Linked DNA regions of Homo sapiens: regions 1, 2, 3, 4 and 5 are each linked to region 6. The links come from fine-mapping of genetic effects on gene expression. A gene starts in region 6. Each other region holds a variant in brackets. All regions are shown on one strand. Distances are between the middles of the regions. Region 1 overlaps SLC35F3 (solute carrier family 35 member F3). Region 2 overlaps SLC35F3 (solute carrier family 35 member F3). Region 3 holds the start of LOC124904553 (a long non-coding RNA gene). Region 4 overlaps SLC35F3 (solute carrier family 35 member F3). Region 5 overlaps SLC35F3 (solute carrier family 35 member F3). Region 6 holds the start of SLC35F3 (solute carrier family 35 member F3).

Evidence for each region. PIP is the estimated chance that this variant, and not a neighbour inherited with it, causes the effect.
Region 1: its variant is fine-mapped to the expression of SLC35F3 in thyroid (GTEx, PIP above 0.99).
Region 2: its variant is fine-mapped to the expression of SLC35F3 in thyroid (GTEx, PIP 0.90).
Region 3: its variant is fine-mapped to the expression of SLC35F3 in substantia nigra (GTEx, PIP 0.98). The same link has a PIP of 0.9 or more in spinal cord.
Region 4: its variant is fine-mapped to the expression of SLC35F3 in stomach (GTEx, PIP above 0.99). The same link has a PIP of 0.9 or more in cerebellum, sun-exposed skin and unexposed skin.
Region 5: its variant is fine-mapped to the expression of SLC35F3 in whole blood (TOPMed, PIP above 0.99).

What each region holds. Positions count from the first base shown.
Region 1 is chr1:233,995,285-234,000,358 of GRCh38, forward strand. The region is part of intron 2 of SLC35F3 (solute carrier family 35 member F3); the gene reads left to right. Among named protein-coding and RNA genes, the nearest start is that of SLC35F3, 93 kb to the left of the region's middle. The variant C/T (reference allele first, on the strand shown) is at 3,162.
Region 2 is chr1:233,924,029-233,929,102 of GRCh38, forward strand. All of the region lies in intron 2 of SLC35F3 (solute carrier family 35 member F3), which reads left to right. Among named protein-coding and RNA genes, the nearest start is that of SLC35F3, 22 kb to the left of the region's middle. The variant C/T (reference allele first, on the strand shown) is at 2,965.
Region 3 is chr1:234,213,454-234,218,527 of GRCh38, forward strand. All of the region lies in intron 2 of SLC35F3 (solute carrier family 35 member F3), which reads left to right. LOC124904553 (a long non-coding RNA gene) reads right to left here and starts at 1,629. Exons shown (of 2, transcript XR_007066948.1): 1 at 1,415-1,629; 2 at 1-658. RefSeq lists silencers at 875-974, 1,075-1,174, 1,225-1,344 and an enhancer at 2,854-2,943. The variant T/C (reference allele first, on the strand shown) is at 2,299.
Region 4 is chr1:234,260,470-234,265,543 of GRCh38, forward strand. All of the region lies in intron 3 of SLC35F3 (solute carrier family 35 member F3), which reads left to right. Among named protein-coding and RNA genes, the nearest start is that of SLC35F3-AS1, 10 kb to the right of the region's middle. The variant C/T (reference allele first, on the strand shown) is at 2,477.
Region 5 is chr1:234,293,431-234,298,504 of GRCh38, forward strand. All of the region lies in intron 3 of SLC35F3 (solute carrier family 35 member F3), which reads left to right. Among named protein-coding and RNA genes, the nearest start is that of MIR4671, 10 kb to the right of the region's middle. The variant G/A (reference allele first, on the strand shown) is at 2,647.
Region 6 is chr1:233,902,342-233,907,415 of GRCh38, forward strand. SLC35F3 (solute carrier family 35 member F3) reads left to right here and starts at 2,335. Exons shown (of 8, transcript NM_173508.4): 1 at 2,335-2,789; 2 at 3,188-3,417. The coding sequence starts at 2,737.

The DNA of each region.
Region 1 (5,074 bases), 93 kb after region 6:
GTGGGGATTTGCCATTAGTGCTTCTGAATGAGGGCAGAGAATGGTTTGTTGTGAAGGAGATGGCAGGAGAGTCAGGCATGATTGCAAGCTGTGGAGATAGAGGGTGGGAGCCCCTGGCCAGATGGATAAACCTGAGCCTGGCTGGCGTTTCTGCCTGTATATTCCCATATTCATGGGCGAGCATTTATTTTAAATGAAGTGTTAAGGATGCCTGATCCCTCCACTTGTGTTAAGACTGATTACTGATCTTTGATGGGAAAGCTGCTTTGATCTGTGATAAAGTCAGCCAGGCAGTCAGCATCCCAAATTGCTTCTACATATTTTCTGATGACTTCACGCGGAGGCTTTTCTTGGACAAGTCTCAGTATAACAACAGCAGCAGAGGAGAGGAAGGCAAAGGTCCCTGCTTATCCCTGGTAAACAGCACGTGTCTCATGGCATGCATCTGGGCACCCCATTGTTACAAGTTCAGCAGCCTTCAAAAGTCAGTGAGCCTGTGGACTACATCCCTCCTGCAGCAAGGAGGCAGGACTGTAACGGGTGGGACCTGTGCCTACTGCTAAATCAAACATCTGCAGCCTCTTGGTTAACCCCCATTCTAGTATATTTTTCTAGCATTTCTTTCTGGCTCCTTTAGGATTAGCATAGCTTGAGAGAAGAGGAAAGCAAAGTTTTTCTTATCTTTATTCTGAGTGCCTGGCAGACTTATCAATTGAACAAAATTGAATTGTCCTCAACTGTGGGCATTTTATTGACATCTTTGAACAGTTGGAGCATTTTATTAATATTTTATATATATACACAGTTGGCACTCCATATTTCTGGGTTTCACATTCATAGATTCAACCAATCAAGAATTGAAAATATTCAGGAAAAAACGGTTAATTGTGTCTGTACTGAACATGTACAGACTTAAAAAATTATCGTTGTTCCCTAAACAATACAGTATAACAGCTATTTACATAGCATTTACATTGTGTTAGAGATTATAAGTAATCTAGAGATAACAAAGTATATAGGAGGATGTGTGTAGGTTATATGCAAACACCATGCTACTTATCTACGGGAATGGAGCATCCTCGGATTTTGGTATTTGAGGAGGATCTTGGAACCAATCCCTCATGGATACTGAGGGGCAACTCTGTATGTGCATGTGTTATTCCTAGTGCTCGGCCCACCAGGTGTGAATTTGGAAGGGTTGCCAATTCAGGTGAGGAAAAGTGAGCTAAGAGACATCCTCAGGGGAGGATGAGGACTTGGGGGGAATTTGTGGGTTCCCTGACAGCCTCACACTGGTTGCCAAACCCTTCCCTCTTTGGAATGTGCCATGGCAAGGCATTTATTTCCTCACATGGTGATCATTTTCACTCACACATAGGGTGTGTCCAAGGGTATTCCACTCTACAATGATTAATAATGATTAGCCATCATTGGGGGTTGGGAGGGACCAGGCTCTGTGCCGAATGGCACTTATTTGCACTCTCTCATTCGATACTCTCAGCAAGCAGGCAATCTCATCCCATTTTAAAAAGTGAGAAAACTGAAGTTCGACTTGGTTCAGAGGCTTGCTGAAATTTGAATAGCTGGCAACTGGCAGAATGGGATTTGACTCCATATTGGGTGACCCTGTGACCCCCCACCCCTTACTCTTTGTAACCACCATTTTATATTTGACATTTTGGGGTGTTTTTCGATTTCACATGTAAGTGAGATCATCTGGTATTTGTCTTTTTGTGTCTGGCTTATTTCATATAGCATAATGTCCTTCAGGTTCATCTATCTTGTCACAAATGACAGGATTTCCGTCTTTTTTCAGGCTGACTATTCCATTGCATATATACACCACAATTTCTTTCTCCACTCCCCTGTGGTTGAACACTCGCGTTGCTTCCACATCCTGGCTCTTCTGAATAGTGTTGCTGTGAACATGGGCGTGCAGACATCTGATGAGCTTGTGATTTCATTTCCTTTGGGTATATATCCAGCAGAGGGATTGATGGGTCATAATGATCATTTGAGTTTTAATTTTGGGGGTATCTCCATACTGTTCTCCATAATAGCTGTACCAATTTACACTCCCCCCACAACAATGAAAAAAGGGTTTCCTTTTCTCCACCTCCTCATCTATACTGTCTTTTTGATGATAGTCACTCTAATGGGTGTGAGGTGATATCTCATTGTGGTTTTGATTTGCATTTCTCCAATGATGAGTGAGGCTGAGCACCTTTGCATATACCTGTTGGTCATTTGTATGTCTTCTTTGGAAAAACATGCGTTCAGATCCCACTTTCAGCCTTTCTTGATCCTCCTACCCTCATAATAAGCATCGTTCTCCCTGGGGGCACACCATTCCTTCTTGCACCACAATACTGATTCTTTTCTTTTCTATGCTCTTTCACTTCTTTTATTTTGAGAAATATAATATTCTGAGTGGGAATGAACAACTGCTAACATGTTCATATTTTCTTTCTTTTTTTTTTCTTTTGAGACAGAGTGTTACTCTGTCATCCAGGCTGGAGTGCAATGGCACAATCTTGGCTCACTGCAACCTCCGCCTCCCAGGTTCAAGTAATTCTCCTTCCTCAGCTTCCCAAGTAGCTGGGATTACAGGCACCCACCACCATGCTTGGCTAATTTTTGTATTTTTAGTAGATATGGGGTTTCACCATGTTGGTCAGGCTGGTCTCGAACTCCTGACCTCAGGTGATCCACCCACCTCGGCCTCCCAAAGTGCTGGGATTATAGGAGTGAGCCACCGCGCCCAGCCCGTATTTTCTTCGAGTCTATTTTTAATTAAAAACGAAAGCATTATAGATGGATATGTGTGTATTCATATATAATATATACTATGGTTCTGCGTGTTTAAATTCTAATGTCTCATACTATAAGCAAATAAAGTCTGGTTCAATCATTTAAACTGCCCCTGTGGTATTCTATCCTATGAGTATGCCCAATTCAATCATTCTCCTACCTAGCTAGCTTCTCATTGTTATATGCATTGGATATCAGGGATTTGTCATATGTGTTGCAAATATGATAGCATCTAATTATATAATTAATATATCTCTTCTTCCTCTACGTAGCTATAAACTCTTTCGGGGCAAAAATCATGTCGGATTTTTCTCTGTGTTCCCAACACTTACTGAGTATTATACCAGATA[C/T]AGAATGACCATTTGTTGGAATGTAATGGAACAGGGCTGGAATGTGGAGGACTCTTCAGAGGAGATGCTATGCCTGACTAGTGTAGTGATTTTCCACTTAGGAAGGGATTTCTCTCAGGAAATCATACGAGATTATAAAAAAGCCCTATCAAAAAGAACAGTAATGGAGATGTTCTCTAATGAACTGTTCAACTCAGTAGACACTAGTCACATGGGACTGCTAAGCGCCTAGAATGTGGCTAGTCTTATTAAGAAACTGAATTTTAAATTTTATCTAATGTTGATTAATTTAAATTTAAATAGCCACATGTGGCTTGTGACAGTTATAGCAGCAGGAGTTAAAGGAACATCTAATATCTGATGATAGTGGGAAATAGAGGATTTTACTGATGTGTTCTTACGTGATCATTTTGGTACTTATTAATGATGAGTACTTTAATAAATATTTTGCAAGTATCAGCCTCTGGGTGCCAGACAGTTTCTTCACCTACAGAGTACAGCCCTTGATGCTTACTTTATAGGATTACTGATGGAGTTAAATAGGGTAATTATGCAAAGCCCTTGAGCCTCATGCTCAATACAGACGGCAGCTGTCAGAGTTCTCATTTTTCCATTATTACTACATAGCAAGCATTAGGGATCTGGATATGACTGTCAGTTCCTGGCCTCAAGCTGGGAAGACAAGACAGGACAGATGCAACCCAGGGTATCCCCTTTGTCTAAGCTGTGTTCCTGAGACAAGCTGAGGTCATCCCACGTTTTTTCCACCGCGTCCCAATTACCCACTGACTTAGAATATAAACTCCAGGATATTTTAGCACCAATTCCGAGTGATCATTCACGGCAGAGCTTCTGAGCTCTTTTAATCCTTCTAGGCCTTGTCACCTTGTGTCCATTGTCTCTCCTGTCCCCTCCATTCAGCACGTCACAAGAACAGTTTCCCCAAAGCACCACTCTTATCCTATTTCTCTGCCGCTCCATATCTTCCAAGGGCTCCTTATTTCCTGGAAGCCAAAGCCTAGGTTCGATGCCATCCAGGCTGATCTCTGCTGTTCCGTGTGGGGATTCTGCTTTGCCGGACTGTTTGCTGTCATTTCAGCACATGTTCAGCTTTCCTGTATTGTGCCTTTGCTTGTTTCCTGTTTCGCTTCCCATCTTCAGTGCCTCCACTTATCCCTTCCGGCCCTGCTCTCCTGCCTACTGAGACTCTATCCCCCAGTGTCAGTCAAAGGCTGCCTCTGCCATGCAAGTGGCCGAGCCCATTTGTGCTCTGCAGCACACTCTTTCATACCTCGTATTTTCTGTTTGTGCTACCTTACAGTGTATTTATTTGCATTAATTTCCTTTCTAGACTTTAACATTTGTGAAAACAGGGATGGCATCTTTACCTCTCTGCATCCCTCACTGCATGAGTATACCAAACACAGAAGATGATAAAGATTTGTTAACAAGTGAATAAATAAATGAAAACATTTCAACATTTAGGATATGATTTCTTCTTTAAAGCAAAGTCCTTTTATCATGAGAATGACCCCTGAACTCTCTCGCACAATATGACAATGTTCCTAGAAAAGCCCTTTAAAGGGCTATATAAAATCACAAAATGCATCCTCTTAATCACAAAAACTCTGATCGCTGTGTAACGAGGATATTCAAAGATTTTTAAAGTGAGTATGAATACTCACAGTGAATCACAAGGGTTCTAACTAAGCAAAGAATTAATATACGCAAAGAGTAGAAAACATGGGCTGCGTTCCATTTCATTGGTGAAAAACAGCTCCCTATTCCTAGTGCAATAAGCATGTATGTAGTTAGTTAGGATTGCAGTCCAACTCAGAAACTAAAGATGGAATTTAACTCCTTGCCTTTCACTTTGATTTTGCTTTCAATATAGGTTTGATATTGACATTACC
Region 2 (5,074 bases), 22 kb after region 6:
TGCTGGATTTGTTTTGCCAGTATTTTATTGAGGATTTTTGCATCGTTGTTCATCAGGAATATTGGTCTAAAATTATCTTTTTTTGTTGTGTCTCTGCCAGGCTTTGGTATCAGGATGATGCTGACCTCATAAAATGATTTACGGAAAATTCCCTTTTTTTCTGTTGATTGGAATAGTTTTAGAAGGAATGGTAACAGCTCCTCTTTGTACCTCTGGTAGAATTCGGCTGTGAATCCATCTGGTCCTACAGTTTTTTTGGTTGCTATGCTATTAATTATTGCCTCAATTTCAGAGCCTGTTATTGGTCTATTCAGGGATTCAACTTCTTCCTGGTTTAGTCTTGGGACGGTGTATGTGTCCAGGAATTTATCAATTTCTTCTAGATTTTCTAGTTTATTTGCATAGAGATGTTTATAGTATTCTCTGATGGTAGTTTGTATTTCTGTGGGATCGGTGGTGATATCTGCCTTATCATTTTTTATTGCATCTATTTGATTCTTCTTTATTAGTCTTGCTAGCAGTCTATCAATTTTGTTGATCTTTTCAAAAAACCAGCTGTTGGGTTCATTGATTTTTTGAAGGGTTTTTTGTTTCTCTATCTCCTTCAGTTCTGCTCTGATCTTAGTTATTTCTTGCCTTCTGCTAGCTTTTGAATGTGTTTGCTCTTGCTTCTCTTGTTCTTTTAATTGTGATGTTATGGTGTCAATTTTAGATCTTTCCTGCTTTCTCTTATGGCCATTTAGTGCTATAAATTTCCCTCTACACACTGCTTTAAATGTGTCCCAGAGATTCTGGTATGTTGTGTCTTTGTTCTCATTGGTTTCAAAGAACATCTGTATTTCTGCCTTCATTTCGTTGTTTACCCAGTAGTCATTCAGGAGCAGGTTGTTCAGTTTCCATGTAGATGTGCGGTTCTGAGTGAGTTTCTTAATCCTGAGTTCTAGTTTGATTGCACTGTGGTCTGAGAGACAGTTTGTTATAATTTCTGTTCTTTTACATTTGCTGAGGAGTGCTTTACTTCCAACTATGTGGTCAATTTTGGAATAGGTGTGGTGTGGTGCTGAGAAGAATGTATATTCTGTTGATTTGGGGTGGAGGGTTCTGTAGATGTCTATTAGGTCCTCTTGGTGCAGAGCTGAGTTCAAGTCCTGGATATCCTTGTTAACTTTCTGTCTCGTTGATCTGTCTAATATTGACAGTGGGGTGTTAAAGTCTCCCATTATTATTGTGTGGGAGTCTGAGTCTCTTTGTAGGTCTCTAAGGACTTGCTTTATGAATCTGGGTGCTCCAGTATTGGGTGCATATATATTTATAATAGTTAGCTCTTCTTGTTGAATTGATCCCTTTACCATTATGTAATGGCCTTCTTTGTGTCTTTTGATCTTTGTTGGTTTAAAGTCTGTTTTATCAGAGACTAGGATTGCAACCCCTGCTTTTTTTTTGTTTTCCGTTTGCTTGGTAGATCTTCCTCCATCCCTTTATTTTGAGCCTATGTGTGTCTGCACATGAGATGGGTCTCCTGAATACAGCACACTGATGGGTCTTGACTCTTTATCCAATTTGCCAGTCTGTGTCTTTTAATTGGAGCATTTAGCCCATTTACATTCAAGGTTAATATTGTTATGTGTGAATTTGATCCTGTCATTATGATGTTAGCTGGTTATTTTGCTCATTAGTTGATGCAGTTTCTTCCTAGCATCGATGGTCTTTACAATTTGGCATGTTTTTACAGTGGCTGTTACCAGTTGTTTCTTTCCATGTTTAGTGCTTCCTTCAGGAGCTCTTGTAAGGCAGGCCTGGTGGTGACAAAATCTCTGAGCATTTGCTTGTCTGTTAAGGATTTTATTTCTCCTTCACTTATGATGCTTAGTTTGGCTGGATATGAAATTCTGGGTTGAAAATTCTTTTCTTTAAGAATGTTGAATATTGGCCCCCACTCTCTTCTGGCTTGTAGAGTTTCTGCTGGGAGAGCCGCTGTTAGTCTGATAGGCTTCCCTTTGTGGGTAACCCAACCTTTCTCTCTGGCTGCCCTTAACATTTTTTCCTTCATTTCAACCTTGGTGAATCTGACAGTTAGGTGTCTTGGGGTTGCTCTTCTCGAGGAGTATCTTTGTGGCATTCTCTGTATTTCCTGAATTTGAATGTTGGCCTGCCTTGCTAGATTGGGGAAGTTCTCCTGGATAACATCCTGAAGAGTGTTTTCCAACTCGGTTCCATTCTCCCTGTCACTTTCAGGTACACCAATCAGATGTAAATTTGGTCTTTTCACATAGTCTCATATTTCTTGGCGGCTTTATTCGTTTCTTTTTACTCTTTTTTCTCTAAACTTCTCTTCTTGCTTCATTTTATTCATTTGATTTTCAATCACTGATACCTTTCTTCCACTTGATTGAATCGGCTACTGAAGCTTTTGCAAGCGTCACATAGTTCTCATGCCATAGTTTTCATTTCCTTCAGGTCATTTAAGGTCTTCTCTATGCTGTTTATTCTAGTTAGCCATTCATCTAATGTTTTTTCAAGGTTTTTAGCTTCTTTGTGATGGGTTCCTACATCCTCCTTTAGCTTGGAGAAGTTTGTTATTACCGATCTTCTGAAGCCTACTTCTGTCAACTCATCAAAGTCATTTTCTGTCCAGCTTTGTTCCGTTGCTGGCAAGGAGCTGCGTTCCTTTGAAGGAGAAGAGGTGCTCTGATTTTTAGAATTTTCAGCTTTTCTTCTCTGGTTTCTCCCCATCTTTGTGGTTTTATCTACCTTTGGTCTTTGATGATGGCGACCTACAGATGGGGTTTTGGTGTGGTTGTCTTTTTTGTTGATGTTGATGCTATTCCTTTCTGCTTGTTAGTTTTCCTTCTAACAGTCAGGACCCTCAGCTGCAGGTCTGTTGGAGTTTGCTGGGGGTTCACTCCAGACCCTGTTTGACTGGGTATCACCAGCGGAGGCTGCAGAACAGCAAATATTGCAGAA[C/T]GGCAAATGTTGCTGGTAGGCAGCTTTTTCAAATTGGCTTCTTTCACTTAGTAACATGTACTTAAGGTTCCTGCACATCTTTTCTTAGCTTGATAGCTCATTTCTTTTCAGCATTGAATAACATTGTATTGTCTAGCTGTATCACAGTTTATTCATCCATTTACCACTGGAAGACATCATGATTTGTTTTGGTAATTATGAATAAAGTTTCTATAAACAAACAATCATGTGTAGATTTTGTGTGAACATAAGTTTTCAACTCCTTTGGGTAAATGTTAAAGAGTTAGATTGCTGGATTGATCTCTGTAATTTTTGATATGTAAGTAGGAATGAGCTTAACTCATTGAATAATATTTATTTCCATAAGAAAATTTTTACATTTGTATCATCTAATTTACTTCAAAATGGTTTTTCAAAATTTATACCTATAACAACAAAAAATAAGAATAAGATTGATGCTAAACTCTCTCATTCTAGCAGTAATACTCATGTATGGGCACGTGTACTACTTAAAAAAATTTCCGTCCATTTTACTAAGAGACGCATTCTAATAATTTTATGTTAAATAACTATCGAACTTGTGAGATGTTTACATAATTTTCATTTGAAGTACTAATAAAAACTGAAATTTTAACCCAATTCAGAAGACATTTTTGAACACTAAAATACATATGGACACAGAAAATTAAATAACTGAATTTCCATTCTTATACTTAATTTTTGTCTCCCAGAGTATGATCTATGTCCATGATGCTTCACAGATAAATATATAAGGGAGAAAATGGAATGGTATAAAATTGCTTGTTGCTAAAGAAAACTATCATTTATGTATTTTAAAATAGATTATTATTGGTATCAAATAACTATGGTAATTAGATTCCTTAAATAGATATAAAAAGTAATGTAGTAGCTTTATTTTAAAGTATTAATATTTATAAATTCTGAAAATCATATCTTATAACTTTCAAATTTATTATGGAAAAGATTCAGAATGAATGAAAACATTCAAACATGATACATTTTTTTTCAGAAGTCTTTTATGGAGGGTACAGAAGTCAAAATGTTTGAAGACCTCTGATAAACCCTTCCAACTTCCCTGTTCTTGGCACTGTAAATTTTCTGCATAAGCCCTAGCCCTCTGCTTCCTCACATGTTGCCAGCAATAAACAATGGGCAGCAGTAATCATGGAAGTCAAGTCGACCTATAGTGAGCAAATTTTCTGGTAAAGCCAAGGAGAAATGGGATAATTTTCTGAGCACTGAGGTCACACTATGGGTTCTGTAAGAGGTAATTTATCAAATAGTTTTTTAGAAGAAATGTGAGCACATCACTGAGTGAGTGAGTCACTGTCTCTCCCTTTCCTTTACTCACAAATAATAATAATAATTGGAACCTGCAGTTTTACACATAACCTAAATCTACTGAGAGAGAATATAGTAGAGTGATTAAGATGATGGACTTAATTAGTCATTGCTGAGTTTGAATCCCGCTACCTGCTTACTGCCTGGGCTCTGGGGAAACTAGTCAGCCTCTCTGAACCTACTTTTCCTTTTTCCTTTTCCGTAAAATGACAGTTCTAGTTCAGATAGTTGTTGAAAATATTTTGAGATAATGCATCCAAAGGGCTGAATACAGTACTGGTGTTTGGAAGGTGGCTAGTTAGTGACAACTTTGGTTAATATTAGATTATTATTGTTGAAAGTCTTGACTTACAAAAGGAATCTTATGAAAGGGGTTCATTATAGGGCCCTTTCAAAAGGAGAGCTTCTCTGATATATTTGAAATATAATTCGACTTCCGAAAATAATGCAGGGTGGTAAGTAGTATCAGCGAGCTGTTACTGTGTAATGCTTCCTGGCAACTTACCCTGATCTGATCTCTATACCTTATTATGTATTGAAACATGGCTATGCACTCCATGAATATGTACAAGTCTGATTTGTCAATTTAAAAATTAAATTAAATTTAAATAAAGTCTTAGTGGCTTCAAGCAATAGTACAAACATTTAAAGCCTGTGTTCTCCTCATGTCTGTTAATATAGAATACATTTGGCCAAAATAAGTCTCATGGTCAACCCCAAGTCAGAGGGCAAGGCAGTACTCTGTCTA
Region 3 (5,074 bases), 310 kb after region 6:
GGATGATAGCAGGGCACCTCTGATGATGCACTGTCATGGGATAAATGCCCCTCCGGACTCAGTGGTCACTCAGGGATTGTGCTGGCAAGTGATGCAATAGGTATATGTCATAGCTTTTTAATGAGCACCATCGGCCAGTAGCTTACAGCTGTGTCTGAGTGCCAGCAGTGAAGCTGGTGCCTGCAGAGGCAAATGTCAGATCTGCAGCTGAAGCAAGAACCTGGGAGCTGGGCAGAAAAGGAGCTTTCCTGCTACCGAGGTGAGTTTGGATCTCCAGACTGAGGCGGTGGGGTGGGAGCAGAAATCTCTTCAAGCCTTTGTTTTCTTGTGGCTGTTTTGCTTCTGTGGTGTTTGAACCACCCCCCACTCCACCCCGCAAAAAAATAGCTGTCCACGGGGCCAGACAAGATAATGTGCCTCTAGACTCAAGAAGTGAATGGCAGCCTTGGGAAGCTTTGCTTTTTCTAACTCTCCCTGTGAAATAATTCAGGACTTCCGCACACTGAAGAGTCAACTCTCAATCCAAAGTCAAGCACTTCCCTTTTTAAACTTGTGCAACGCTGAGGCTTAAGTTCTCAGGGTCTCCCCTCCGCAGGCGCTGGTCCTTTTAAAGGGCTTCTCAGAGAGGTGGTGGCCAGAGGCTGCAGTCAGGACCTGGCTGGGAGGAAGACAGGGATGAGGGCTGCGGGGCTGGGCGTCCCGGGGAGGAGGGCGGAGCAGGTGAGCTGCGGGGTGGGAGCAGGGAGTGCACTTGTACGTGACGTTGGAGTTTGCAGCAACCTCCAAGTAGGAGGCTGTGCGCGCGTGTGTGTGGAGTGGCTGCGCGGCCGGGGAGGATGTGCGCTGCAGGGCGGCCGCCGCAGTGAGCAACGCGGCAACCGGAGCCCGGCGGGCAGCCGGGGAGGCCGGGACTGAGAGGGGCGAGCCGCTGGTGCTCCCCGGCGGCAGAGGGCCGCGTCGGCCACGGGCCCGGGAGAGACGCGCTCCAGCCGGCCCCAGGATGTAGGCGATCGGCGGCAGCGCTCCTGCAGGCGGCCGGCTCATCATGAAGAAGCACTCGGCCCGGGTGGCCCCGCTCAGCGCCTGCAACAGTCCGGTCCTGACCCTTACCAAAGTGGAAGGTAATGCGCGGCCGCCTCGCCCCGGGGGTCCCTGCACCCTAGCCGGGGAATGCTGCCACCCTGAGGGGGGCTGTCTGGCTGCGGGGCGCCGGGGCTGGGGGTACTGCTCCCCCAGGACGCGGCTCCGCAGTGCAGAGCGCCGCCGCCTGCGTGGGGGGATCTGGCAGCTTCAGGGGCTGCCCTGAGCTCCCTGGCGAGCAGGAGTGAGCTGCTGCGGCGAGTGAGCACCCGGCTCCCCAACCCTCTCCTTCCTGGGCAGCACCCAGCGCATCTGGCAGCAGCTGCACCCTCACCTCCATCCCAGTTTGTCCTGGGGCTCTTGTCTGTTCGGCAGGAGGGGGTCGTCCAGCCGCTCCCAGTGTCCCCTTACCACACACACACTTGAGTTGCCTGGGTGTGGAGCTCTGTGCCTCACCCCCAGGCCGACCAAAGGTGCTGCCCGCAGTTGGTAGAGGCGGGAGAGGGCTGCAGCGGGCTAAGGAGACGTCTGTCCTGCGTGTTCCGAAGCCTTTCCGGCCACCAGCCAACTGACTGCCCTGCTCTTTGGGAATGGGCGGGGCGCACAGGTGAGGGAAGAGCCAGCACCAGTCTGTAAACAGGCTCTTTCCCAGGCCCTGGAGAGGGATTGGAAGGGCTGTGAGAGGCCCCCAGAAGGTGTCCTCCTCCCCGTGTTGTCCTTTCTGCCTGGAACTGCTCCCACCCAGGAAATGTGAGCGAGAGGACAGGGGAAGAAGCAGCCCACCGAGGAGAGCTTCCTCAGACACAGCTGGCTTCTGCTGGCCTAAGGGGCCTTGCTTTCCAATGGAGAAGGGGGGCAGAGGGCCAGTCCCAGTTCTTAACTCCTCCTCCCAGGAGGCAGAGGTGGAATGACTAACTCCCTCTGCCAGGAGCAAGCCACCTTGGCCAGGTGAGGCAGACAGACCATCCCCTGGGTCCCAGGAGCTCCCCTCTAGGCTTTTGCTTGTGCTGAGCTAACAGAGCCCATGAGCATCAGCGGTGAATGAGGGGCAGCCATGGGCTCCGACAGAGCCTGGCTTCTGCCCTTCCCAGGAAGCCTGGACTTCTCTAGGCTACTGTTGACCCTGCTTCCCACTCGTGACTTCTTGTTTATTACAATGAATCTCAGAACCAGCGAGGACAAGACAGAGGCTGGCTTGGTAATTGTATATCCCAAGCT[T/C]AGCTGTCCACACAGGCCTGCCTGCAGCTGCCCTAGTACTGTGATCCCCATCCTACTGAGGAGCACTGTGAGGCCCAGCAAGGTGGGTTAACGTGTCCTAGACCCACAGTTGGTAGGTGGTGAAGCAGGAATGGAATCCTGGGCTGTCCGATCCAAAGCTCAAGCATTTTTTCCAGAACATCAGTTTGCACTGAACTGCAACTACTTACCTATTTCTCAACATTTTCTATCTTTAGGAGGTTGGGTTTTTTTCCTTCTTGTGGCTGTCTTCTTCTCTCCTCCATCCCAACCTCAGGAATGACTTGATATCAGCCATCTACACCTGAGTTTAGTGCAAGTGCTACCTCTTCCAGGGGTGTTTGTATTTCTAAGCCTACCCAGACATTGCCCACATGCATGTGTGAATTGGGGAGGGAAGGATTGGCCATTTATTTCTCTGAGGGAAGCAGGGAGTGAGTGTCTGCTCACTCATAGGGTCCTCATGGGAAGCTGCCCACTCCTACCTCCTAGTAGGACAGATTGGTTCTGCTCTCCAGCAGCAGGGGGTCTCCCTGGGAAACTCCCAGCCCACCTTAGGCAGGACAGGTTCGAACTGCACTGGAAGTGGGGCAGGACGCGGATGGTGGGGCTACCTGAACTGGGTGCTGTGGCCTCAGAGGTGCTGCAGGAGGCAGTGAGTGGCATGCGAGGCACAGGTACTTCCCTATGGCCAAGCCTGGAGGTTGCCTTCAGGGAATGAAAGTGAAAATTATCTCCCACTAACCACCAACCCCCCAAAAAGTCCCTTAGGGCTGCTGCCAAAAGAGCTTTGAGTCTCCTGCACCTGCTAACGCCAGCAGCTGCCTCGCCACGGGCTTGGCTTTGGAACTAGCATTTCCTCATAAATGCCTGTGGATAACGGAAATGTATAGTGAACTAAGAAATGGTGAGATTGAGGATCAAGACTGGGCCCTGCCCCTTTTCCAGTTGGATTTGTGTAAATCACGAACACAGCCTCAGTTTCCGCAAACGTAAAAGAGAAGGAACAACCTACTTCAGCAGGCTGTGAGGAGATGCAATAAGGTAGAGGTAGCTGAAAATGCCTGGCAAGCCCCCAGTTGCATTTTTCGTGGGATACCTACAAGTATCCCATGCAAAATTCTGCCCCTCGGGGCCTCATAAAACCTGCTCTTGGTATGCCTGGCTCACATATAGCTCTTTCTCTCTGCCTAGTTTTTTTCCTTGGTGTTTTTATTCAGTTTGGCTTTTGGTCTATTTTTTGGAAACCATTTGCATCTTATGTGCTGGTTTTGGAAGTGTTGAATCATTTCATTTTAACTTGAATGCACAGGGCAAGGTGGTCCCCATGCTGTGGGTGTTTCTGTATGGATGGCAGACAGGCTACAGGGAGGGAATGCAGCCAGCGAGGAATATTTATTAGCTTGCAGAGTGTGTCATCTAAGGGGAGGCAAGAAGGCACCAGCATGTGGTACATATAAAACCAAAATAGAAAAGGCAAAGCTTGGTTAAACTCAAACACAGGAAGATGGGCAAGATGACTTCATTTACTCAACAAATACTTCATCCAACCCTACTCTGTGTCCTGTGACAATTTAGCAAGGCCCTGGAAAGGCAAAAAGGAACAATTCTAGCTTCATTCTCTTAAGGACGTTTTAGTCTAGAGGGGAAGAGACATACAGATAGATAGATAAATTATCAAATACAAAGTAGTAAGTTCTGGTATCGAACTGAAAAGCAAGGTGTCACGGGGACACTGAGAGTTGAGCAATCTGAGGAGGTGTTCCTGAGGAGGAGGCCTTCATGAGGAGGAGGGTTTCTACAGAGGAATACTTTCTGAGGGGGGCCTTTCTGAGGGGAAGGCCTTTCTGAGAAGGAGGCCTTTCTAAGAAGAGGCCTTTCTGAGGAGAAGATATTCCTAAGAAGAGGAGGCTTTTCTGAGAAGGAGGGCTTCTAAGGAGAAGGCCTTGCCGGGGAAGCCTCCTCAGAAAGATCTCTGAGGAGGAGGCCATTCTAACAAAAGGGCCTTTTTGAGGAAGAGGCCATCTAAGAAGGAAGCCTTCCTCAGGAAGAGGCCTTTCTGAGGAGATATTCCTGAGGAACAGGCCTTTCTAAGATGGAGCCATTCTAAGGAGGGGGCCTTCCTGAGGAGGAGGCCTTATGAGGCATCACAGCTGAGGCTGGGGGGATATGAGAAAGCTTGTTGGTGCAGAGGGGAGGAGAGGCAGTTTCAGGCAGAGAGAACATGGATGCTAGGGCTCAGCCCAGAAGCATGAGGAGAGTGGGGCTGGGCCTTAGATAGGGGTTAAGGTTTGAAAAGTGTGTTCTGGCGAGATTGATGGCATCTGTCATGTCTAAAAACATACCTTGTTTTCACAGATCCTTTGCTTGGCTTTCCTTTCAGAAGCAGAGCATTGGTCAGTAGCACATCTCTAATAGACTAGTGTTTACTGGGATCAGCTCTACTCACAATCAACTCATTCATGTTCAGTGAAATTACATTCAATAGGGATTAATCATTGAGAACAGTACAATGAATTCCCCCAAGAGGCGTGCAGCAAGTAGTGTTGTGGAAAGGGTGAGGGCTTTGGAATTAGATGGACTGGGTCTATCCAGCTGTCATGCTAGGTGAGTGATTTCTGGCTAATGAATAAAGCTCTCCAGGAATCAGTTCCGTCCTAGGAAAGGAGGGGTGATGACATCTTGCTCTTAATACTCAAATAATAGTTTTTGCTAATGAATGCCTCCTATATTGCAGGTACTATGCTAGGAGAGATTG
Region 4 (5,074 bases), 360 kb after region 6:
GTTTCTCTATATGAGTTCTGCTCAGGATCCCAGAGAGCCCTCTGGACGGAGATCATGGTCTTCCATACTGGGTCCTCCTTCTTTGAGTTTTGAACGGTAAGACTAGCCTAGGCTGAGGGGTAACATTCTGGGGTCAGGACTTGGGATATGAAATTCAGTTATCTTAATACTATGGACAGCCTGCTTAACTTTGCAGAGCCTCATCTTTTTCATCTATAGAAGGGGGATAACAAACGATCTTAATGTAGTCAGGTTAGTATGAGGCTCAGGTGAGTCATTTCCTGATTAAGCACATGGCACCGGGAGAAACTCCGCATACATAAGTGCCTCACGTCTCCCTCCATTTCCTCCACCAAAGTTACCCAACAGCAAGAACAAGACACTTTACTGCACGGACTTCCTGTGTTCGCCTCCCTCGATTGTAACCTCCAAGTATACACAGAGTTCCCATGAGAGGGAAATAGTTAAACATCAAAACAGGTATGAGCAACTTATGTTTTCTGCTTCACATGAAGCCAAACCTAGAAAAATGGAAGAGTTTAAGGACCGAAATTCTTTTTCCCTTAAAAATGAAAATAATTGTATTAAGTAAAATTTTGGCTAACACAATGCTAAGTGGGGCTTGTTGGTGGCAACCCATCCAGGCTACCTCCCGAGAAAGTGTTACCAGAAAGGAGTCCTGATCCAGACCCCAAGAAAGGGTTCTTGGATCTCATGCAAGAAAGAATTAGAGGTGAGTTTACAGAATAAAGTGAAAGCAAGTTTATTAAGAAAGTAAAGGAATAAAAGAACGGCCACTCCATAGGCAGAGAAGCCCTAAGGGCTGCTGGTTGTTTCTTGATCATATGGTAAACAAGGGGTGGTTTATTTGAGTTTTCTGGGAAAGGGGCAGGGAATTCCTGGAACTGAGGGAATTCCTGGATCTATAACTGATATAGTTATCCTATATCCATATAGAATAACTTCTGGATGTTGCCGTGGCATTTGTAAATGGTAATGGTGCTGGTGGGAGTGTCTTTTGGCATGCTAATGACTTATAATTAGTGTATAATGAGCAGTGAGGATGATCAGCTGTCACTTTTGTCACCATCTTGGTTTTGGCGGGTTTTGGCCGGCTTCTTTATTACATCCTGTTTTATCAGCAGGGTCTTTGTGACCTGTATCTTGTGCCTATCTCATCCTGTGACTAAGAATGCCTAACCTCCTGGGGATGCAGCCCAGCAGGTCTCATTTTACCCACACTCTATTCAAAATGGAGTCACTCTTGTTCAAATGCCTCTGACAAAAGCGGTGTGACAAGCCTGGGATTCCCATAGTGATCATGCTGGTAGGAGTGAGGTGTTATTATTTAGAAACACTATTGCACCCGCTAAGGATATGCATGGATAAGGTGAGTGAGAAAAATGAAAGGGCTTAACTAGTGTCGTACAGCCAGTGAACAGCAGGGCAGAGACTCAAACTTGGGTTTGCAGATGAGAAATCCTTCACCTTTCTATCTCCACAGTATTGACATCTCCCCAGCCTCTAAGGCTCACCCCAGGACAGTTGCCTGGTTGGGTAGGAAGCTGTTGGTGTTCATCTCAACAAATATTTACTGAGCACTTACAATGTGCCATGCTCCATATTAAATGCTGGAGGGTAAAGTGATGACTAAGAAAACCTCAACTTTCAAGGCATTCTATAATGTGCTACAAAGGGGAGGGAGTTACTTTAGGAAAGGGAGAAAGAGTGTGAAGCAATGTGCTAGTAATTATCAGTGAGAAGGATAACGTTGGACTAGCAGGGGGAGAGCCCTGCTGTGGCACTGACTTGCTTGCTGTGCATTTAGGCGAGATATTTCTTCTTGTGAGCCTCTGTTTTCTCACCTGTGAGATAGGGTTAATAGACTGATGTAACAAGCTTGTTTGATATGACTATAAGAAATACTTTGAGAATACATGCATTAATGAAAGCCCTCTCCAGTGCCTGGCATGTGGTTGGCACTCAGGAATGGTGGTGTCTGTCCTGGGAGTGGTGGTTGCAGTGGCTGCTTTAGGATCTGGCTCTTCTTACAGGAGAAAGAAACAGTTCCACTTCCTTCTAGGTAAGCTGTTTTTATTACTCCCTTCCTGGTCCTCCGGAGGGCCGCTGGCATTTGACTTTGGCAGAATTAGGACCTGAGTATGCCAAATGAAGCCTCTCTGGTGCCCATACTATCAGCCTGGATCCTGCAGGTAAGCTGCAAGCTGCAACAGCTTCAGGCACTGGTACAGAATGCGGTTCCGGTTGTGGTCTGAGGGCAGGTGGTGAGACCCTCTGCACCACCAAGTCACAGGCTCTGTTCCCCACTTCTCCTTTCCAGCCCCAAGGTGCGGGTTATTGGAATTCAGCTAGCTTTGGGAAAACAGGACTGTTTGTATTCTAACACAGAGCTGAGTCTCTATTAGGCAAACAGCCCTTTGACTAATGGACTTGGCCTTGGAACAAGAGCAAGCTG[C/T]TTACATTCCCAGGTTGCCACAGTTCTGGGCTACAGTTTGTATCCGGAGCAGATATGCCAGTGATCATGTGGCTTTGCATATGGGTACCCTGCTGATGGGATCACACACATAAGTCACATACAAGACTGCTGGTGAAAAAAAAGGAGTTGCTATGTACCTCAGATGACTGATCCTGCTAATCCTGGTCCGGGTGCTACCTGCAGGGGCCAAAACTGAGAAGCTCTGTTTGAGAAAGGGAGAGACTAACAGAAGCATGATGAGAAAAATCTGGGAGTTGGGGACTAGGAGTTAAGGCATATTTAGGTTCTATTTAGGATGGGGAACTTAAAAGAGATATGAATTTTAAAAGAACAAAAATTTTAAAGAGAGCTAAAAGAATGTTAAAGGAGTACAGGAATTTCTGATGAGAATTTTAACTCTTATTAAAATTATTATTTAGTATGCAAAATAAACCCTCTGTTCCACCTCCCTTGTGAAATCTTAGGTAAAATTCATCTTGCTTGCGTCTATATTTATGGGCTTTGTTGACTCGGGAGAGTATGCAACAGCATTTTGAGCCTTGATTTAAGGCTGGGAGGTTCTCAAAATGTGATCCCTGGAGCAAGAACATGAGTACCACCCAGGAGCTTGCTGGAATTGTGGTCTCAGGTCCCACCCCAGACCTGAAACAGAAACTCTGGGGATGAGGCCCAATCCTCTGGGTAATTCTAATGCAGTTGAAGTTTAAGAACCACTGGGGCAGGGTGACATCCTAGAAGCAGCACTTAGAGACAGCCAACACTTGAGATTTACTAGTGTCACCCACGAGAAAGCTAGGACACTTGTGCTCAAGGCTGGCTGACATTAGAATCACCAGGGGAGCTTTTAAGAGTCCAGATGCTGGCCCAGCATGGTGGCTCACGCTTGTAATCCAGCAATTTGGGAGGCCGAGGCGGGCAGATGACCTGAGGTCAGGAGTTCGAGACCAGCCTGGCCAACATGGTGAAGCCCTGTCTCTACTAAAAATACAAAAATTAGCCAGGCATAGTGGCAGGCACCTGTAATCCCAGCTACTCAGGAGGCTGAGGCAGGAGAATCACTTGAACCCAGGAGGCAGAGGTTGCAGTGAGCCAAGATCACACCACTACACTCCAGCCTGGGCGACAGAGCAAAACTCTGTCTTAACAACAACAACAAAAAATGCCATAAATTGGGAGGAAATGTTAGCAATACAGAAATATTAGCAATACAAATAACTGAAAAGGATTAATATCCAAATACCATTCACCACACCCTGAGACTAACCCACCAGGTGTGCACAAGGAACCTTCCACTTGGTGTCTGTTCAAGGACCTCACTCCAGCAGTTGTTCCCACCTTCTGCTGGATCATGTTCATCGCTCATTATAATATGATAGCTCTAAGAATTTAAAAAGTACACCTGGCCAGGTGCCACCTTATTTATCTCTCTGAATCCAGCAAAACTTACCGGAAGAGTAGTCTGTACTCTGTCTCCCTTTCTCTCTTAAACCTACACCACTATGGATGAGCTCTTATCAGAGTCATATGTTGCCAAATCCAGTGACCATTCTTAGTTGTCATCTTACTGTTAATTTTTGTTTTTATTTTTTCATCTCGTTGATAGAGGATCTTGCTCTGTTACCCATGCTGGAGTGGAGTGGCATGATCATAGCTCCATCATTACTACAGCCTCAAACTCTGGGGCGGAAATGATCCTCCAACATCAGCTTCCTGAGTAGCTAGGACTGCAGGCACACACCATCATGCCTGCTAATTTCTAAATTTTTTGTAGAGATGGGGTCTTTCTGTGTTGCACAGGTTGGCTTCAAACTCCTGGGCTCAAGTGATCCTCCCACATCAGCCTCCTGAGTAGCCAGGACTACAGGCATGCTCCTCCATACCTGGCCAGTATTCCTTTTACCTAAGCTAACACTTGAACCCTCCTTATTGTTTACCTGGGACACTGAACTTTTTGTGTCATCTCCCTTCCTCTCTGGCTGTTCCTTCTCAGGCTGCTTTACTGGTTCCTCCGGCCTCCCTGAACTCTGAACAGTCCAGGGCCCCACGCTCAGTCCTTTGTCCTCTCCTCTGCAGTGTCTACGCTTGCTCGCTAGGTGAGCCCCTCCTGTCTCATGTCTCCCTGATGATGACCCCCAGATGCATGCCCTCAGCCTGGACCTCTTTCATGAATTCCAAGACCTATAACCAACAGCCTGTTCAACACCTGCCCTCGAATAGCAAGTAGACATCTCAAATATAACATGTGAAAAATCAAACCCTTCATGTTCTATTCCTCTCACAATCCTCCCCACCTTGAATTACAGCAGCACCATTCTTGCAGTTGCACAGGCCAAAAATCTCAGCATTATTTCTTCTTTTTTTCTTTTTCTTTTTCTTTTTGTTTTTTTGGTAGAGATGGGGTCTTGCTATGTTACACAGGCTGGCCTCAACTCCTGGACTCAAGCGATCCTCCCGCCTCACCCTCCCTGAATGCTGGGATTATAGGTGTGAGCCACTGCATCCAGCCTCAGCATTATTTCTGATGCCTGTCTTTCCCTCATGCCCCTAGCCAAGCCAGCAGGGACCCCTTTTGACTGT
Region 5 (5,074 bases), 390 kb after region 6:
ATTTTGAATCCTTGAATCTCTGTGTCGTCTTCAAGGGTGAACTATGCATGTCTCTGATCCGCATCACATGCAGGGCCAGGGAGCACACATTTAGATGGTTAGTCAAATCTAAATTATATTTACAAGAAGCCATCAGCATGTGCCATGGAAATCCATCCAGCTCTAAAGTCTATGCTGTTGGTCTGGATGTAGGCAGTTCTGGCTGTGTGTGTGAGGAAGAGAGAAAGAGAGACAGACATACCCAAACAGCACATCTGCCTTCAAAACCAGTGCACCCAGACACACCAGTCTCCTGGGGCTGGCCTTGAAAAGCTTTCCAATTAATAGAAATCAGTGTTATCCAAAAAGGCACATTATGGAGTTGACCCCATCCATAAGCATTCTTGCCCTTGAGATATAACAACCTTTAATTTCAACTTTCATAAAACTGTTCTCTTTAGGAATGATCCTGATTTTTCAAAAGCTGTTGAATTGGGGTCATCTTCGTCTTACTCCAGGTTTGAGACCAGGAAAACACAGCCTGTTCATTTGATGCTGAATTCCACAAGTCGTTATGTCTCTTCAGTTTGAAGGAGGCTGTTTTCTAAAAGCATAAATCATAAGCCAGAGGGAGAGCCCTTGGGATAATTCCCCTGAATGTTTCTTTTCTAAAGACAAATCTATGCCCATGTCTTTAAATAGTTTTAACACAGCTCCTGAAAATAGCAAAGAGCATTGCCTACACATCTGCATAATTAGTTGCAGGGAATAAACCCCAAATCCACATACCCTTTCCTGCAACACCCAGGGAGGCAGGTTCCTTAGGCTCAGCACTCCACACAGGTCCCTCGACAGCGTTGAGCCGAAGCAACGAAGGAACCACCATTGCAACAGGCTTGGCTCTGTTTCCTGGCTCTGTCTCGGCCAGCAGAGTAGGTGGGCAGCGACTCTCTTTCTGGTAAAGATTGTTCCACTTTACCCAGCACATCAGCCACAATTAAGGCTTCACTAAAATAAATGCAGAGAGTGGGGAATTGAATCAGGAGCCCCTAGTTCTAGACTCAGCCCTGCTACTAACTAGCTCCCCATCACCCTGGGCAGAATGCATCACATCCATGCCAGAGCTTTCCTACATCTAAAGTACGGAAGTCGGAGCTCTGACGTCCCTGCCAACTGATAGTTCACAGTTTTAAGATACCCACTTGCTAAACTTTCTGGCAGTATAAATGTGCTGACGTTGGCAAAATCTGCCTAAACGTCAAGCGCTGAGTTCCGCTCATTTATTCACAAATATTTCCTGACTGCCACTTTTGGATTGTGCACTATCCTAGATGCTGGAAGGTACAAAGGTGACTGAGACACAGGCTCCTTCTTCCAGGAAGAGATCGTGCTCTGCTAGGAGAGACAGCTATGTAAACAGTCATGATAGAGCTCTGTGGAGGTGGGAGGGAGGGAGGCACAGAATATTATGGGGGCAGATTTACAGGGTGCCTGGGGGGGGAACCCAAAGTCAAAGAGAAAGCCATGGAAGAGGAGAGAGCCAGTAACTCCATGAAGGAGACAGCAGCAAGGGGATATCTGCAAATTTCTGAAGCCCACGGGGCCTGAGGCAGAAACTGAGTTCAGCCAGATGCAGAGAAATGTCATGATTGTCTAGCGAGGAAGGTTGCCCATCTCAGTGCCTCGCTGTCCCAGCTGGGCCCTGTGATGGCAGCTCTGTGTTCCTGCAGCCTGCTTTAGTGACAGATCACTAGGACAAGATATTGTTCCTGCTCCTCTGAGAAAGGCCAAGGACAGCAGGTGACATTAACATGAGTGACGAAGGGACTACAGTTGGGCTGAAAGCCTTTTGGAATTCCCATAGGGTAATTAAACTATCCCATTACACGTTCTTGAATATCTGTGGGGTAGCTCTGTGAGATAGCTCATTGGATACTGCATTGCTGCCTTGCGAAGCTTGGGCTTTGAAGATTGCCATTCTGCCCACGGATGTGTACCCAATTTCCATTCCCTTTCATGGTGACAAATGCAAAGAGCACATTGGTCAGGCCAGTTCTCAAGTGTCAGTCTCTCGATTGCAAGCACGGGAGCCAGGCTGAGCTTGAGAGGGAGTGCTGCTCGCCCAAGGTCTTCAGGAAATCTCATCAAATGTTTGGAATTTTCATTGGTTGTCTTTCCACACTGTTAGAATCCTAGATCCCTGAAATGTGGTGTGGGGGTACAAAAGCAAGCCCAGCTTTGAAATCTCAGCTGCTTTTCTTGTTAAACAATTATTTGAAAATTCTTTTTCATAGCGAGCTAAATATACTCCTTTCTACCACTGCAAAGCCCTAAATAAATAACCACCCCTGAGGAAGAAAGCCAGGCCAGCCAGCAGATGAACACAGACACCTGCCACAGCTGTGGAGTCCCATTCTGGGACTCTGACGGGCACCCTCAGATCTGGTGTTGCTCCACTGTTCCCACTGAGTCTGAGTTCCAACTTCTTTTAAAGGAGCCAAGTAAAGGTCCACACACTCTGCTGTGTCTTCTCCACTCTGGGATATAAATGCTGTTGGATCATGTGTTATACAAATGTATTCCTGGTTCATCTCTTGACAGTTTAGTGAAACTCAAACCAATCATTGCTGATGTGGAAGTTGTGAAAAAGCAGGAACATAGAAGTGA[G/A]AGCCCAGCAGCTGTTATTTTCTGGTACCTGTTGAACAAGAGCTGAGCGCTGTTTCCCTCTGTTTTGCGGAGGGATGTGCTTTCTTAAAGCAGAAGGTTGACACTTTCCTGAGCCGCCTATTCCATTTCAGTACTAACAGCTGTCATTAGAGCCCATCTCCAGCTTGCTCTTCATCTCCTACGTCCATCGCAAAAAAATCACATTTTGCAAGGGATGGTCCTATGGGGTCTTTCTGCTTCAAAAAAAAAAACCTAGTGTGTAACCTCACTGGGTTAAGTGGACTATCACAAACAAAAGTATTCAGAGTAGATTTATTCCATGCAATATTTTAATGGACTCTTTAGAATAGGAAGAGTGGTTTCTGATATGGAGAGGCTGTTTCAGGTTGGAAGGAAATGTGCAGAGGTTCAGAAGGTCCGTCCTTCCTAAGTAGCCAGACTGCTTCACTTGCCATCTTAGTATCCAGACATAAATGGAGGCTGTCAGTCATCTCTGTCTTTGCCACTTCCATCTTCACCTTTGTCATAGAGCTCAGAATCACTTCACTGTGAATCTAGCAAGTTGGCCAGGGGCCCTGTGGACCAGCGATGCTTTGGGAACAGGCACACTCTCGGCACTTCTCAGATACCTCTGCTATTTGACTGAGCATGCAAAATAACCAGCTGGTCCCCAAAGAACAGATTCCTGTGGAGGAGGCTGTAAAACTCCTAGTTAGTGAGACATATATGCAGTCTGTGCTTCTCCACGTTCCCTCTCCAAGACCTTATCGTTCAGGCTGGACCAGTCCTCAAGGGAAAATCTCAGAAACTAAAATTTCTTGTAGGCTGCAAATGCCTTGAACTTACATTTTCTTTTAATGAAACATTTGCCTACAGTGGCTGAACACAGACAATTAAAAAAAACATGTGGTCAAAGGACCTGAATAGACATTTCTCCAAAGAAGACATACAAATGGCCAATAGGTATATGAAAAGATGCTCAGCATCACTAATCATTAGTGAAATGCAAATCAAAACTACAGTGAGATACCACCTCACATCTGTTAGAATGGCTGCCATCATAAGCAAAAGACAACAAGTGTTAGTGATAATATGGAGAAAAGGGAACCCTTGTACACCGTTGTAGAAATGAAAATGGGTACAGCCACCATGGAAAACAGTATGGAGATACCTCAAAAAATTAAAAATAGAACTACCATATGATCCAGAAATCCCGTTACTGGGTATATATACAAAGGAACTGAAATCAGTATGTTAAAGAGGTAATGTCTGCATTCCCATGTTACCACAGCACGATTCACAATAGCCAGCTTCAATGTTTATTGATGGATGAATGGATAAAGTGTGGTATGTATACAACATGTAATACTATTCAGCCTTACAAAAGAAGGAAATCCTGCCATCTGGGCAACATCGATGGACTTAGAGGACATTATGCTAAGTGAAATAAGCCAGACACAAAGGGACAAATACTATATGATCTCACTAATATAAGGGAATAGTTAAAATAGTTAAGCTTGGGCCGGGCACAGTGGCTCACGCCTGTAATCTTAGCACTTTGGGAGGCCAAGGTGGGAAGATTACTTGAGCCCTGGAGATTGAGGCTGCAGTGAGCCATGATCATGCCACTGCACTCCAGCCTGGGTGACAGAGCAATACCCTGTCTCAAAAAAAAAAAAAAAAACAGTTAAACTCATAGAAGCAAGGAGTATAATGGTGGTTGCCAAAGGATAAGGGGGGCAGAAAACAGGGAAGAGTTAGTCAGAGTGCAAAGTTTCAGTTATGCAAGATGAATAAGTCCTAGAGCTCTTCTGTACAGTAGAGTGCCTATAGCTACTCATACTGTGGCATATACTTAAATACGTGCTAACAGGGTAAATCTTATGTTAAGTGTTCTTAACACACACACAAAAAAAGAGGGCTGAGGCAACTTTGGAGGTGATGGATATATTTGTGGCATTAATTGTGGAGTTCATGGGTGTGTACTTACTCCAAACTCATTAAATTGTATACATTAAATATGCACTGCCTTTTTTAGGTCAATCATACCTCAATAAAGACAGGTTTTTTTTGAGAAATGTAAATATGTGACATCTCAGAGAAAGACAGTGTGAGTGATAAAGAAAAAGAAATGAAGGATTAAGGTATGCTGAAAGTGATTGAGGTAGTGTAGTTACTGTTTTATAGAGGGTGTCTGGGAAGGTCTCTGAAGTTTGGTCAGAGATCTGAAGGGGTGAGGAAAAGAACCATGTCCAGATCTTCCCCCATATTTACCTTTTTTACTCCAAAGAAGATGGTAAGCCAATGAAAGTTTTTGAGCAAGAAAATAACATGGTCTGATTTATGTTTAAAAGAAAGAGACAAAGGTATGAAAGAAGGATAATAATAATCTAGGTAAGAAATGATAGTGGCTTAGACGAAGTGTTAG
Region 6 (5,074 bases):
GCCAGCATTTGATGTTGTCAGCGTTTGGGATTTTATTCATTCTAGTAGGTGTATAGCAATACATCTTTTTTGTCTTAATTTGGAATTCCCTAATGATGTATGATGTGGAGCATCTTTTCATGTGCTGATTTACCATCTGTATATCATCTCTATTGATATGTTTGTTCAGCTGTTTTGCCAATTTTTTAATTGGGATCATTTTCTTATTGTTGAGTTCTAATTATTCTTATTTTTTATTACAGTTCTTAATCATGTATATGATTTGACATATTTTCTATTGGTCTGTAGCTTTTCTTCCCATTGTTTTAACAGTGTCTTTTGTAGAGCAGAAGTTATTAATCTTAACGAAGTCCAATACCAATTTTTACTTTCATGGATCATGCCTTTGATGTTGTATCTAAAATGTCATTTACAAACCCAAGGTCACCTAGGTTTTCTCCTTTTTATCTTCTAAGAGTTTTATAGTTTTGCATTTTATATTTAGGTCTATGATCTATTTTGAGTTAATTTTTGTGAAAGGTGTAAGGTCTGTATCTATGTATCCAGCTTCTTTTCTTTTTTTCTCTCTTTCTTTCTTTTTTTTTTTTGTGATTGGATGTCTAGTTGTTCTAGCACCATTTGTTGAAAAGGTGATCTTTTCTCCATTAGATTTCTTTTGCTCCTTTGTCAAAGATCACTTGACTCTATGTGTGGGTCTATCTTGGCCTCTCTATTCTGTTCCATTAATCTATTTGTCTGCTCTTTCACCAATACCACACTGTCTTGATTACTGTAACTATAGTAAGTCTTGAAGTTGGGCAATATCAGTCCTCAGACTTTGTTCTTCTCCTTTAATATTGTGTTGGCTATTATGGGTCTTTTGCCTTTTCATATAAACTTGAGAATCAGTTTGTGATATTCACAAAATAACCTCCTGGGATTCTGATTGGAATTACTTTGAATCTATAGATGAAGTTGGGAAGAACTGACATCTTAACAATATTAAATTTTTCCATCCATGAACATAAAATATCTCTCTATTTATTTAGTTCTTTGATTTCTTTCATCACAGTTTTGTAGTTTTTCTCATATAGATATTGTACATATTTATTAGATTTGTACCTAAATATTTCATTTGAGTGGTGTGCTAATATAAATAGTATTGTGGTTTTAATTTCAAATTCCCATTGTTCGTTGCTAGTATATAGAAAAGCAGTTGACTTTTGTACATTAATTTTGTATCCTTCAATCTTACCATAATTGCTTATTAGTAACAGGAGAGTTTTTTTGTCAATTGAAATTTTTCTACATCAACAGTCATGTCAGCTGCAAAGACAGTTTTCTTTTACCTTTTCCTTCACAATACGTATACTTTTAATTTCCTTTTCTTGTCTAATTTCATTAGCTGGGACTTTCAGTATGATGCTGAAAAGGATTGCTGAGTAGAGACATACTTGCCCTGTTCCTTATTTTAACAGGAAAGCTTCTAGTTTCTCACCATTAAGCATGGTGTTAGCTGTACGCTTTTGTAAATGTTCTTTTTCAAGTTGAGAAAGTTCCCCTCTATTCATAGTTTGCTGCTATACAATATGATTTTAATATAAAAAAAGCAGTACATAAAGTAGTGTGTACAATTTCATTCCGATTTTTGTGACAACTGTATTTTGCGTTGGAAAAAAGCCTGGAAGAGAATACGTTCATAATTGAAAGTCGTCATTTTTGGCTGGATAATGGATATTTTCTTCTCCACATACTTCTATCTTTTCTAAATTTGCCCCGATGAAAAATAATATTAGGAAAGGTGATTAGGTAGTCTGAAGAGAATGCCTTTCGGCCGTCGGGGGCAGTGGGGTGGTAAGGAAAAAGATGAGAAGCTTTTAAAATGGAAATCTATGAAGAGAGAACTGATTTCGTAATTGCATCATCAGTGGGAAAGTAAGCTCTCTGAGGACCAGGTCTGACTGAGAGATCCCCACAGCGTAATAGATAATACATTTTGTGTCTCAGCGTTGCCTATGAAACGCCATTTATTCACTTGGCATGCTGAGCATGGAACCAGGTTTCTTTCTTTCCAAGTAGTTTTGCTAATTTAGAGAAAGAGAGAGACAGACATATACATAGAGAGAGAGAGAGAGAGAGAGAGAGAGAGAGAGAGAGAGAGTGTGAGAGAGAGAGAGAAAAGTACTGAACTGGGAGCGGCAGGGTTTGAGTCAAAAGAGAAGGGTGGAGGAGCGCGTCCGGTGCCCCAAGGCTTCCAGGCGGAGCGCGGGCGCGAGGTGCGGGCTCCGGGGCGGAGCGCACGCCCGGGAGGCGGGAAGTGGGCAGCAGCGCCCCCGCCTGGCCCCTGTGCGCCCCGACCCGACGCCTCCCCGCCCGACCAGGTGCCTCGAGAGCGCACAGCTGGGAGGGCTCTCCCGGTCGCGGCGAGACTCACGCCTGCGGTGTGCTAGGGCGGCGGCGACGGTGACGGGCGTGGGGCGCGGCGCTGCCTCGGCTGCCGGGTCGTTGCGGCGAGCGCGCGGGCCGGCCTGGAGTCACCGGGCTGAACCGCCGCGCCTGCATCGTGCCGCACGCCGCGGAGGCGCTCGGGTACAGACCGCGCGGGCGCGCACAAAGCGGCCCGGGGCGGCCGGCGCGGCGCAGACCCTCGGTGGGCAGCGCACTCCAGTCTTCCCAGGCTAGCGGCTGCAGGGAGCTCCGGCCCGCGGCCCCTCCGCCTCAAGTCTGGGAGCTGCCGGTCCCACTCTGTCTTTGCCTATGGGGATTCGAGAGTTTCCCAGCGGCGCACCCAGGGGCAAGAGCATTGCCGTGTGAGTAGCGCCCCGGGCGTGGGTGAGCGAGCCGGCGGGCGGGAGGCCGGAGCGCCGGGGTAGCCCTTTGCAGCTGGGACACTGGGCAGTCTGAGGCTCGGGGAAGGGCGGCGCGCGCGGTGGAGCTGCTCGGGAAGTTTCAGTCATTCTTTCCCTCGCCACTCGCCCCAACCCGCACTGCCCCGAGACGCCCAGGATAGGGCACTGGGGACAGCTGCCCGGGGAAGTGGGTGAGTGGCGGCGGGAAGGGAGGAGCGCGGGCTCTGCCGCGGCGCTCGCCCCCGGAGGGCCCCGGCCGCGCTCTTGCTCTCGCCCTGGGATCTGCTCCTCACGAATCCCCTCCTCTCTGTCCATGCTCCCCCTGCCCACCCACCTGCCCGTGGCGCCTGCGACCGCAGTGGCATGAGGAGGTCACCGGACGTCAGCCCCCGGAGACTGTCCGACATCAGCCCCCAGCTCCGGCAGCTCAAGTACTTGGTGGTGGACGAGGCGATTAAGGAGGATCTGAAATGGTCGCGCTCCGTGGAGGATCTCACCAGCGGGCCGGTGGGGCTCACGTCCATCGAGGAGCGGATCCTGCGCATCACTGGCTACTATGGCTACCAGCCCTGGGCAGCGAGCTGCAAAAGTAAGACCCCCTCACGTCATGTTTCCCGTTCACTGGTCCATCTTCTTACCATTGTCACAGCAGCCTCGGGGAGCGCACGCAGTGAGGCGTCCAGCCACCCCCTCCCGCCCTGCCTGCTGATACAGACCCAGGTTTGCAACTTCGAGGAAGAGGCCCGGAGACGGAGTTCTCCTGGACCTCTGAGGCGTTCTGATGCGTTCTCTTACACCCCTTCCTCTCCCACACACAGGATCTCTCTGTATCCTTATCTCTCCACTGCCAAATACGGAGGACACTCCTATGTGGCAGACCGTGGGAAACAGATCAGAAACTCAAAGTATCCCGGACAGTGTGGCTTCCCCGCGGATCTGAAAGTCTCACAGGGCCCTCGGTCAGGTCTCACCAGGCTCAGATGGAGATGCTGACTTACATAGCCAGGATTTTAACTCTTCCTTGCATCTCCTAGCCCTGATGATAGAGGACAATTCTTGGGGTCTTCATTTTGGATGCCGTTCACGCCCTTCTCCCCTGGATTTTATCGGTCTTCAGTAAGGAGGTTCTATAGGGATCATTCTAGATAGTGGTGTTGGTCCCTGCAAGTTGAATGTTTGGTGTCAGGTGGAGAAGCTGAAATGTTTTTCTTTCCGTGGGTCCTAGCTAATGGCTTTGAGGATGCTGTGATCAATTAGACAGACATTATCTTATGTCACCAGGACTAATTTGGTGGACATTTCTTTTTCTCACTTTGCAAGAGAGAGGTTGATTATGATGAAATCCAGATATCTATAAATATAACCATAATTAGGTGGTCTCATCACTGTAGTTTGACATAAGAGATTGCCATTTGCCACCTCAGTCCGTATGAGAAATGGGCCTTGACGTCTTTCATTTGTAATAAAGACTAGATTAATAGCTTGTTGATTTTGAGTTTTTTTCGACCTTTTATTGCTTAAAATTGAAACATTATTTATTGGTCTTTAAGGGGAAAACGGGCGTTTGTAATTTAATCATATTCATCACTAAAAAAAAATGTCTATCTTTAGATTATTCCTAAAACCTGCGAGTCCAAGGCAAAGGTCAGTGGTATGCTAGCAGTTAGCTGGTTAGTTTAAAATTATTTGCAGGAAGAAACAGGATTTGAATGTTTTGTTTTCATGCAACTTGCTTTTAAAAGACTGTGTTTCATTGGGTATAAGCCTTTAAAAAAATTGTCTGTATCTCTTCCAATCTCTTGCCTCTGCTGCTAAAATTGTAGCTTATTACAAAAGGAAGACAAGGGGCCAAATTCTCTTTTTGGTTGAAAAACCCTGGGCATGGGATAACAAAAATTAAACCCCATTGGAAACCATATTTCTTATGGGCATGGATAGAACGCTCAAGTTTTACTTCTGCTTTCTAAATTTCTATTAGAAAATAGCAATTTTCTATTCTTATTTCCATTTTCTGCTTCCTTAATAACAAAAGACAGTGGTATAAATGACAGCCTTCATAAAGTCATCTCTTTGGTGCTTGAAGTCATAAAAAGGTTTTATCTTTATAAATCTATTTGTGACTGGCTGTATGTGCTTTGTGGAAGTTATCACCAAGGTTTGTGATTTGGGGGCTTGCCAGAGAGCTTACAGCAGTGATGACTGTTTGGTACAACATGTTTTGTAATTAAGACAAGAGAAGGGCCATG